3 linked regions of the Homo sapiens genome follow. The protein of the gene in region 2 interacts with the protein of the main gene of each other region in a pairwise test. Each region holds a gene or a part of one and is shown on either strand. Other genes may lie near its edges. The genes, in order: DPH3, ADIPOR1 and NAA20.

Region 1 (2,851 bases), on a different chromosome or scaffold from region 2:
CCAGGTTTAAGGTTTTCCCAAGTGAATAGTAAGGAGTGAGAGAAGAGTGGTTATAACTGACCATGGAGTTTGAACTAGGTAAAGAGAACATGAAGGGAGTGAGGGGCAGTGAAAGGGTGGTAGGATGAATATGGTGGAGGTCCAGAGGGGTTGGAATATGGCATCCAGGGTGGATAAATGACAGCAACAGAGAAGAATAGCAAGGCGGTAGTCTCAAGACATAAGATTCTAAACTGATGGGTTTTAGACAGGAAAGGAGAATGGAGGCAAAAAGGAGGAACTAGCCCCACTTCCAATCCCTCTGGTACTAGGACTCTGAGAACACAGAGCCTCCACTAGATGGGCTTGTAGGGGAAACTGTCCTTAAGAATATGACTTCATCTCAACCTCAGCCCTGTTGACATTTTAGGCCTGATAATTCTTTGTTGTTCAGAGATACCCCGTGCATTATAGGATGTCTAGCAGGATCCCTGGCCTCTACCTACTAGATGCCAATAGCAATCCTCAGTTGTTTCAATTCAAACTGTTTCCAGATATTACCAGTGCTCTTGGGGATAAAAGGACATTTTGAGAAAGAGGTTGAGAATATGAAGCATTGTGCTAACAATGGACCATGAATTCCAAAGGGCACAGTGAAAGGGTTCCACATATTGGGCAACAGAGTAGCAGGGACAGAGTAGGGGCTGATCCTTCGGGAATCAGATTGCTGGAGGTGAGGGATAACCTTGGAAGCAGAGATTTTTGGTGGTAGCTGACATAAGCCAGGATAAAAGACCAGAGATTGAACTTCATTTACAAAGTAGCTAACATAGCAGATTATCCATGTTGGGAACCACATAAAGACCTGTCCCTTTTAGTTAGAAGAAGTAATTACTTTGAAGAGGACTGGTATTTGAATGACCAAATATTAAAGTGGAGAAGTTTTAGTGTAAGTAGTAATTAATACAGAAATTTAAAATATGTGGCATGTCTTTATGTGATTTCTGAGAAGTGGTTGCTCTGAACTGAAGATAGGGATGTTTGTTTATAAGGTGCTTTGTATTAAATAATGAATTCAGATCAAAAAACTGATACATGTTTAAGATTCTACTTCTGGTGCTGTCATTGGCTCTTTGAACAAGGATGAAATGATAATAGCAAATGAAAAACAATTAACAGCGCTGGATTGATGCTGTAACAAAATGAAGGTTTAATATTAATGTATTTGTGACCGGAAATTCATTGGTTAATGTCATTTCTCACTCTGTCTTAGGATCAGTTTGTGTGTGGAGAAACAGTCCCAGCCCCTTCAGCCAACAAAGAATTAGTTAAATGCTGAAGAAGCCTTCAGGAATCCAAATCCTGAACATTTGGAATGAGCCCAGATAGAAATATCGAATGCAAAGCTACTGGCTTCACAGAGACAACCATTTATGATTTGCTGTTCTGTAAGAGTGTGGATTCTTTCTATCAACTGCTGATATCATCTTCAGGAAGCAAGTCCATAACATGACATATCTGGATTTTGTGCTTAGAACCTTAAATTGGAAGCATTCTTAATTATGCATCTAAATTTAAAAGAAGATAATTTCAAAACAGTGCTTTCTTTCCCTTGGTTTCATCATTTTCATATCTTAAACCAAATTACTTCGGTATCTGACAACAGCATCATCTACCTCAGTCATTAGGATTTCTTAATAAAAAAGAGATTGTATTTTTGACTTGGTTATTAAGATTATTAAAATTAGCCCTTCCTTTGAAATATGACATCAGCTTTGCTGTTCTAAATTTAAAATTAGTTGCTTCATCAGTACCACACTTCCAGTTTCTATACCAAGCCAGTCTCCTCAGTTTTCCCATTAGAATGGACATGTTCTGTTCAGCGTGTCATTTCTGTAATGCTTCATGCAGAGAGTTTGGTCATAGTATTAAAGAGAAAATACAGTGAGGTCACAATGTCTCCAGAGCTAAAAGTTAGTGAACAAGAAAGAAAGTCCAAAATGAAGTGATGAAAGAATGAGGACTTTTCTTATATTCTGCATATTCCTTGGAAGTCAGGACAAGATGAAAAGAAAAACATCCAAAAGAAGTGAAATTGGTGACAGAATGAGAGGAGCAAAGCATACCAGTGTAGTAAGTGGAATGTTTGAATGACTTTGCCAGGTCAGAGCAAGTAATATTTCTGTATCTGAGTTTTTGTTTGTGTTTTGATAAGGCTAATGAAATTGCATTCCAGGTAGGGGTTAACGTCAAATTTCCATGGCTGGTAGCTGTGCTTTTGGCATATCACAGTGTTGTGTCACTACTACAAGGTAAAGCATCTACAGCGGAGAATGAGCTTGAAAATGAGAGACCTATTGTGAATAAATATGCCCATGAGAGCATATTTAATAAGCCTCTATAACATGCAGCCAAACCAGACATTCACTCCTGCAGAGAAATGTTGCCCTGGAGAAAAAGAAATATATAAAGATAGGCTATCACCCTTCTTTTGCTGCAGTACTAAGCATAGCAAGAAATTAGAATCATTTACATTGGAAATTTGAAAATTCCCTTTATATACACAACTTTACTGTGTATAAATAAAAAATATTTATTAATGCAGTGATGTCCGTCAGGTTGTTTTAGGAATGGCTTCTGCAATTAGAAAAATAGCTTGCTAGAATGTAAATGTTCTGTTACTGGTAAATGTACTGCACACATTCATTGGACGTTAAAACAAGTGAGTAGCCTTTTTTACCTGCCAGCAGCATGGCTGTGTGCAGCCACTAGGCTGAGACAATAAATTACCAAAAATTATAATGTACCGAGCTGAAAATGCTCAGTACATTATGTGGCATATTCTGGATGTGATGAGAAATCTCATTGCCAT
Region 2 (3,660 bases):
GGGACAGATGCCTAGTGGTTAATTTCTCTGCGAAGTCTACTAATTCTATTACAGGATTATAGCCTGAGTTCAACCCTGGGATAACAAGCTTTCATCACAATCTGTCCTGCAAGCAAGCAAGAACTTACCTGGAAGCAGGAAGGTGAAGACAAGGAGGCAGCCCCAATTTACCCTTTGCCACACACATACCTAATAACCAGCTCCACAATAACTTGTTTCAACCACCACAACCCATAATCTAAGCCCTACTCAAATGAGTATTTCAGAAACTAGAGACAGGCACACACAAAATCAGAAAAACCCAGAATTCCATTTTCTAGGAAAAATCTCAGACACTTTAGGTTTTCCTGGGTTGGATTTTCACAGTAGTCTTTAAACAGGCCTCAGGGAAATGCAAATAAAAAAAGAGGGAAAGAGGGAGAAAGTTTCCAAAGATTTCCACTATGCTGTAAATTATTAGTTCTCTCCCCACCTCTACCCCCATACAAAGGACTTTATTAGTTATAGCAATAGCAGTAGCCAGAATATTAGCATTTTCTTGCATTGGTTACCCAAGCCCCACCCAAACCCAAATAACCACATTGCAATGCAGGGAGGGCCAGGTAACAACTGCACATGGAGTGGGTTGCATTCCGGGAGAGGAAACTTAAGCTTAGGGAGCCCCAATCTTTTATATTGGGCAGTAAACATAACTTTGCTCCTGAGGGAGACACTATATCATCCATGGCTATTCACTATATACAAATATCTTTGATATCTTGTGTCAGTTCTTTTTTATCTAAGAGTAATCACAATTCCTTCTCAGGGATTATAAATCTCTTTCTCTGACTCCCTAACTCTCTCTGTCTCTCCCCCTCCTTCCCTCCTGGAGCTGGGACACCCTTCTTTTCCTGCCCTTGGACATCAGAAACTCCAGGTTCTCCTGCCTTGGGATTCCGGGACGTGCACCAATAGCCCCTTGGGTTCTCAGGCCTTCAGCCTTAAACTGAACCAGTTATGGACTTTCCTCATTGTCTAGCTTGAGATGGCATAGTGTGGGACTTAGCCTCCATAATCTCATGAGCCAATTCCCCGAATAAATCCCATCTCTATCCATATGTATGTATCCTATTGGTGCTTTCTGGAGAACACTTACTAACACATCAGGTAAGGGCAATCCTCAAGCTTCTAAACAGTCATGAGTCATGCTATGCTCAACCCACAAGCACAGTTGAAAGCAACCGGCAATCTAGTCCAAGAGAGACAAAAACAATAACTTGCTATACAGCAGACCTTTATATGGTGTCAACACATAGACAGTTCCTCTTCCTTTAAATGTGCAAGACTCTGACGAGATGCCAGCACACAGTCATAGTGAACAATTGAGCTAAGGAGAACAGGAAGCTGGAAGCCTATGAAAACCTCGAGGATGGGCAACCCGTGTGAGAGGGACACAAGGAAATCTTTCTCAATAGGCTGACCTCAAAACATATTTCCTCAAAGTGAAGTACTACTGAATCAGCAGCTTTACTAAAAAATACTTTATATCGCAAGCAAAAAAAAAAAAACCAAAAAACAACTTTATATCACAAGCAAAAAACATAAATATTTTTGGGCATCTTAGATAAATCTGAAAAGAGGGGCACACTTAGCTTGTTACTTACTAAGTTACTGTTGGAAGTAACTTAGATCAGGCTACCAGGGCAGAAACAAAACAAAACAAAACAAAATTCTGGTTCTGAGATGCAATACATGGATCATAAAATAATAAATATACTTTATTTTAGTTAGAACCCATTTCAAAATGAATGAATGAATGGGGCAGATTCCAGCTTGCCAGCATATGACTTAGCTTCTAGCCACTTAGATAAGGGCTTATGTGCATTTTCTTGTGCTTGTGGTGGCTTCTCTTATCCCTTTCCCCAGAGTAAGTCAACACATTCATTGAATATTTAGCAAGTGTATTTAGGACTAGCACCCTAAGGCATTCTAAGACACTGTGCAAAATACAAGACACTGTGCAAAATACAAGTTGAACAAGTTATAGTATTGTTTTCAAAGAGCCAGATAACATAGGTAGTTTGTGATATGCACAAAAATAAGTGATACAATTTGATTGCTCCAGGAGGGCAGTGGAGGGAGAGAACCCCTCAACTAGAATGGTCACACACTAAATTTAGTAACTTTGAGTGCTATGTAACTATTTTACTAGAGGCAATGAGAATAATATAGAGAAAATTTAAGTTGGGCAATTAGGGTCCAAAGATCATGTGCAGAATCCAGATTGGCATTCTTACTAATTTCATCATTTGATCTGAAAAGTTTTTATGCCCTCAAGTCTTCTGGCTATCATCAAAGTCTTTTCCTTTTTCAGTCCAAATCATTTACTATTAGTTCTTCCGATTCCCTCTAGCTCCTCTATCACTAGCTCCTATACCACCTCTCTACATCTTCTAGACCCAGAGTCACCAAAACCTGAGACCCCAGTTAACTCACAAACCAGCCATCAGCTACAACTCATCATACAAAATATATCATCATGCATTAAAGTACATACAATGGAGGTCAATGGAGATCATGTCATCATAGTGAGCAAAGTCCATTGTCCAGTTTGGTCTTCTAAACTGTAGTAACACAGAGACAGGAAAGGGAGAGATAGGGATCGGACGTCTGGCAAGAAAGAAGAGCAAATAATACTAGGATCTGAAAATACCACTTCTATGGGGTGGATCACTCACAAACAATGGAGAATTACAAGTGTGTTTTAGTCTATGGTGTAAAATCAGAACAAACCCCTAAGGTGTTAGAACGATCCTAGGTGAGCCAACCTTCTGCCAGCTTTCTATGTCCTTACGTATTTTAGAGGAAATGCCTTTCCCCTCAAGCTTGCCACACCCAATACTGCAAATTATATTTGAGCCAAACTCGACTGAGTGCATTTTTGATGAGATTTCTTCAACTCAAGCTAATAAACCTTTACCACTAAGCTTTCCAACTGGGTAAACCTAGGATATTAGAGAGTAAAGCTGTGGAGCAGGGAGGTTGTTTGTACTCCTATAAATAAGATAATCCTGTGCCAAACATGGGGAAAAGATTGATTTTTAATCACCAGCCAGTTAGCTGGAGAGTTATTTCACTTATAGTTTTTGGAGACATTTATATTGTGAACCAATTCCCAAGTTTTCCAGGCTACGGCACACCTTTCCTGGAGGCAAAGACACAAAGTTTCTAAGAGTTTAGTTCCTGGGCCTTTAGAGAGTCTATGGGTAGCCTCTATCCATACCTAGCTTGATTCTTGTCCTAAAGCAAGACCAGTCTAGCAGTATAGATAAAGAATACAGCCATTTTTCCCCTATCTACTGTCTCTTAGGCAGGATAATTTCACAGCTTTGTTGGAGAAATATGAATCAAAGCAAAGGCACATGTTTGAAATCACCGAACTACAGTATATAGGGCCTCAGCTCTCCTACTCGATGCCAAGCGTCCCAGACTCTGAAGTGGAAAAACAGTCTGACTTCCTTTGTAGCTCTTCCCCAACAGAAGTCTTTTTTTTTTTTTAAAAGGGTCTTGCTCTGTCATTCAGGCTGGAGTGCAGTGGTGTGATCTCAGCTCACTGTAGCCTCAATGTGCCAGACTCAAGCGATCCTCCCACCTTAGCTTCCCAAGTCTTAGTAACCGGGA
Region 3 (3,557 bases), on a different chromosome or scaffold from region 2:
CAGGATTTAAGCAAAGCATTGTGAAGAGGAGAAAAGATCTAGGACTAACAAACAAACAGTATAATGGTATGAACGCAGGTGACTGGGAAGAATTTACTACACGATAAGAAGGGAGCTTCTTAAGTATGCTGGACAGTGATTGCTTCAAGTGTGCATTTTTAAAATACTACGTATGGAAGTCACAATTTAATTAAACGTATCTTAAATGATGATGACCTTTCACAATCCTGATTTTTTTTTTTTTTTTTTTTCTTGAGGCAGGGTCTTACTCTGTTGCCCGGGCTGGAGTGCAGTGGGACGATCTCAGCTCACTGCAACCTCCACCTCCAGGGTTCAAGCAATTCTTGTGCTTCAGCTTCTGCATAGCTGGGATGCCCAGCTAATTTTTGTATTTTTTTTAGTATAGATTTTGGCCAGGCTGGTCTCAAACTCCTGACCTCAAGCAATCAGCCTGCCTTGGCCTCCCAAAGTACTGGGATTACAATCTGATTTAGTTTTACAAATGACTAACAAACTTCAGAAAACATTCATAGAGTCAATAATGTATTATACATCTTAGATTTATACATTTCATATATGCTTTTAAAGCTTCAATTAACAGTTCAATACAAAATTTAAAAACAAATATATGCAGCAGTGGTTCTCAGGCACAGAACTGAGGAGGAGACTGGAGCAAGTCTTTTCCCTAGCATACATACAGTGAATACTATGAACCATGAGAGTGGTATGTTTCCTTCTGACCTAGCTGCCTTTTTGATTGAATTTTGTTACAATGAACAGCTTTAATAGGTATGATATTGCTAACTGGAAACAATGAGATTTAAAATAAATTGATAACCTGTATTTTCTTGAAGTCTTTAAGACCTAAAATGATTACTTTTCTCCTAATAGAGCTCCAGAATCATCCAATGAAAATAATATTGTCCATAAAGCATCTAGAGTATCTGCCTAAGAACCACTGCCCAGGGTTATTCAATGTCTTCAGGCCTCACAGGATGAGGTAATGGTATGATGGATTTCTTCTCAGTATCCCTGGAAAGTGCTTTCCTCATATCTGTAAAGAAGCAAAGTTTAATATAAACACCCAAAAAATGTATTATATCAAATGTAAAGTGTATAGGTAAAGTTCCCATAAGAGGTTTTATCCCTACCCCCACTTCACCATATTCTAAGCAAAATGTATTTATAAATGTCTCCCAATTGCCAAGTGTACCAGATGCTAACCAGACCTCACCCAGTATTCAGCTCACAATACACGTTTTCTTGTTAGCAAAATAATATGTATGTAACAGAGTGAAACAGTAAGGTACAGAAATTAACCATTGGTTAGTTAATAGGTAAGTTAATTACTACTACTAATAGGTTGATAAAGGTAGGTTGAGGGAAATTTAAATTTTAAAGTCAAATATTCTACATTTATTAAAATAATCAAATACTACAATCTGTAGAAAGAATGTAACTGTTTCGACTTCTTGGGGATACTGCCATGGAAGGGAGCTTACCATAAGCGTCCTCATCAGGCTCCCCGTTGCTGGCCGAATAGTACTCTATGACCGTCCTATATACACTGTAGCCCAACTGCTTGTACATGTTAACTGCAACTTGGTTAGATACTCTTACAAAGAGATCCACAAAAAATCCACCCTTTCTTTAAAAGAAAAACAAAAAAGGAAAATGTTAGAATGTGAGAAACCCTAGAAAGTAATAGATACATATTTTTTTTAAAACGTGTTTTTACCTTGCTTTGACTACTACTCAGAATGGTAGTAATAGGACCTTGTAGCTGATTACATGGTAATAGAAATTTGTATTACTTAGGATTTATGACAATTACTTTGCAGTGTAAGAACATGACTTTATGTTTGCATGCTAGTATTTCAAAAGCAACACGTTTTCTTAAAAGATAAACTCAAGGCATTTGTTCTACAAATTCACCACCTATTACAGTTTCTCCTGTTTATGAAGTTTATATACATGGAATCATATATTCTTTTGTCTTTTGCTTCTCTCAGTCGACTAACATTGTAAGAGTCAGCTTCAAGAGTGGCTGGGCTTGTGCACAAGTCATTCACGGTCCTGTTGATACGTTTCTGGCTTTTACTATACAAACGATGCTCCTGTGAATACTTCTGTTGAGTGTCTCACGTAAGGTCTATAGCTAGGAGTCTCACTGTTGTGTCACAGGGCACATCTTCATTAGTTAATACCAAACTGTTTTTCCAACTGGCTTGTACCAACTTACTCTTGCACAGAAGTGAGTAAGCCTCCATTCCACAGCAACAAGGCTTGGTGCATCACATGTTTTTATTTTTGCCAATCTTACAGTGTAACTATATCTCAGATTTTAATTTGTATTTCCAATTACTAACAATGCTGAATATATTTCTGTTGGTTGGCCATTTAGATTTCTCCTTCTGTATAGTACTTAAATCTTTCATACAATTTTTCCCCCGCTACAGTTCTCTATGTATTGTGAATATTCAATACTGTGTAATGTCTGCAAGTATCTTTTTCCAATTTGTGGTTTGTCTTGTCATTATCCTTATGTTATCTTTTGATAAAAAGTTACTTCACTTCAGTGAAGCTGAATATATGAATCCTTTCCTTAGCCTTTTTATGGCCTTTTTAAAAAGTTCTACACTGAGGCCACAGAGACACTCTGCCATATTATATTCAAAAGACTTCTTAGTTTTGGTTTCACATCTAGGTTTTTAATAAATCTGGAGTTGATTTGTGTATGGAATAATGGTAATCTGGGAAATTTTTTTTTCCCATAGGGACATCCAATTGTCCAACCACCTTTACTGAAAAGTCTATCTTCATACTATTGATGTGCAATGCCTCTTCTGTGGTATGTTAAAGTCCATATATTCTTGGGTCTGTTTCTCAAATTCTGTAACACTGGTCTAGATAACTACAGCACTAAGATATAGTCTCACTCTTTACAGTCTGATACCTGGAGGGGCACATCACCCATTTTTGTTGTTGTTCAAGAATATCTTGTCTCTTTTTTGCTCTTTCTGTTCCTCTGTATGTTTCAGAGTCAGCTTAACAAGTACTATAAAAAATGCTTGGGATTTTGACTGCAATTACATTGGAACTGCGGTCGATTACCTGTTTACTGTATCCTCTAATCCAGTGATAGTTTATCGCTCCACTTATCAGGGCTACTTTAATATCTCTCAAAAAAGTTTTTTAAATGTCAGAGAGGTCTTGCATAGCACTTGCTAGATTCTTAAGTACTTAATGTTTTTTCATGCTATGGCATCTTTTTCTAAATTTTACTGTTTATATATATATAAATACAATTGATTTTTATACTGACTTTCTATCCAACAACCTTGCCTACCTTTTATTAATTCTAAACATTTATTTCTAGATTCTTGTGGATTTTATATTTGTATAATCATATCTGTGCAAAATAAGTAAGTTTTGTTTCCTCTCATATGTAAATACAATTGATTTTTATACTGACTTTATATCCAACAACTTTGCCTTTTATTAATTCTAAATATTTATATTCTTATGGATTTTATATTTATATAATCATATCTGTG

What was found.
Region 1: the proteins of ADIPOR1 (region 2) and DPH3 interact in a two-hybrid assay, tested with the Homo sapiens proteins (one large-scale study listed by BioGRID and IntAct).
Region 3: the proteins of ADIPOR1 (region 2) and NAA20 interact in a two-hybrid assay, tested with the Homo sapiens proteins (one large-scale study listed by BioGRID and IntAct).

What each region holds. Positions count from the first base shown.
Region 1 is NC_000003.12:16,259,231-16,262,081, reverse strand, and holds part of DPH3 (diphthamide biosynthesis protein 3), read left to right. Parts: intron 1-1,252; coding exon 1,253-1,318; 3' UTR 1,319-2,851.
Region 2 is NC_000001.11:202,951,705-202,955,364, forward strand, and holds part of ADIPOR1 (adiponectin receptor protein 1), read right to left. Parts: intron 2,604-3,660; exon of another isoform or gene 2,537-2,603; intron 1-2,536. UniProt on the Homo sapiens protein: Receptor for ADIPOQ, an essential hormone secreted by adipocytes that regulates glucose and lipid metabolism. Required for normal glucose and fat homeostasis and for maintaining a normal body weight.
Region 3 is NC_000020.11:20,030,599-20,034,155, reverse strand, and holds the end of NAA20 (N-alpha-acetyltransferase 20), read right to left. Parts: intron 1,649-3,557; coding exon 1,503-1,648; intron 1,055-1,502; coding exon 969-1,054; 3' UTR 501-968; downstream 1-500. UniProt on the Homo sapiens protein: Catalytic subunit of the NatB complex which catalyzes acetylation of the N-terminal methionine residues of peptides beginning with Met-Asp, Met-Glu, Met-Asn and Met-Gln. Proteins with cell cycle functions are overrepresented in the pool of NatB substrates.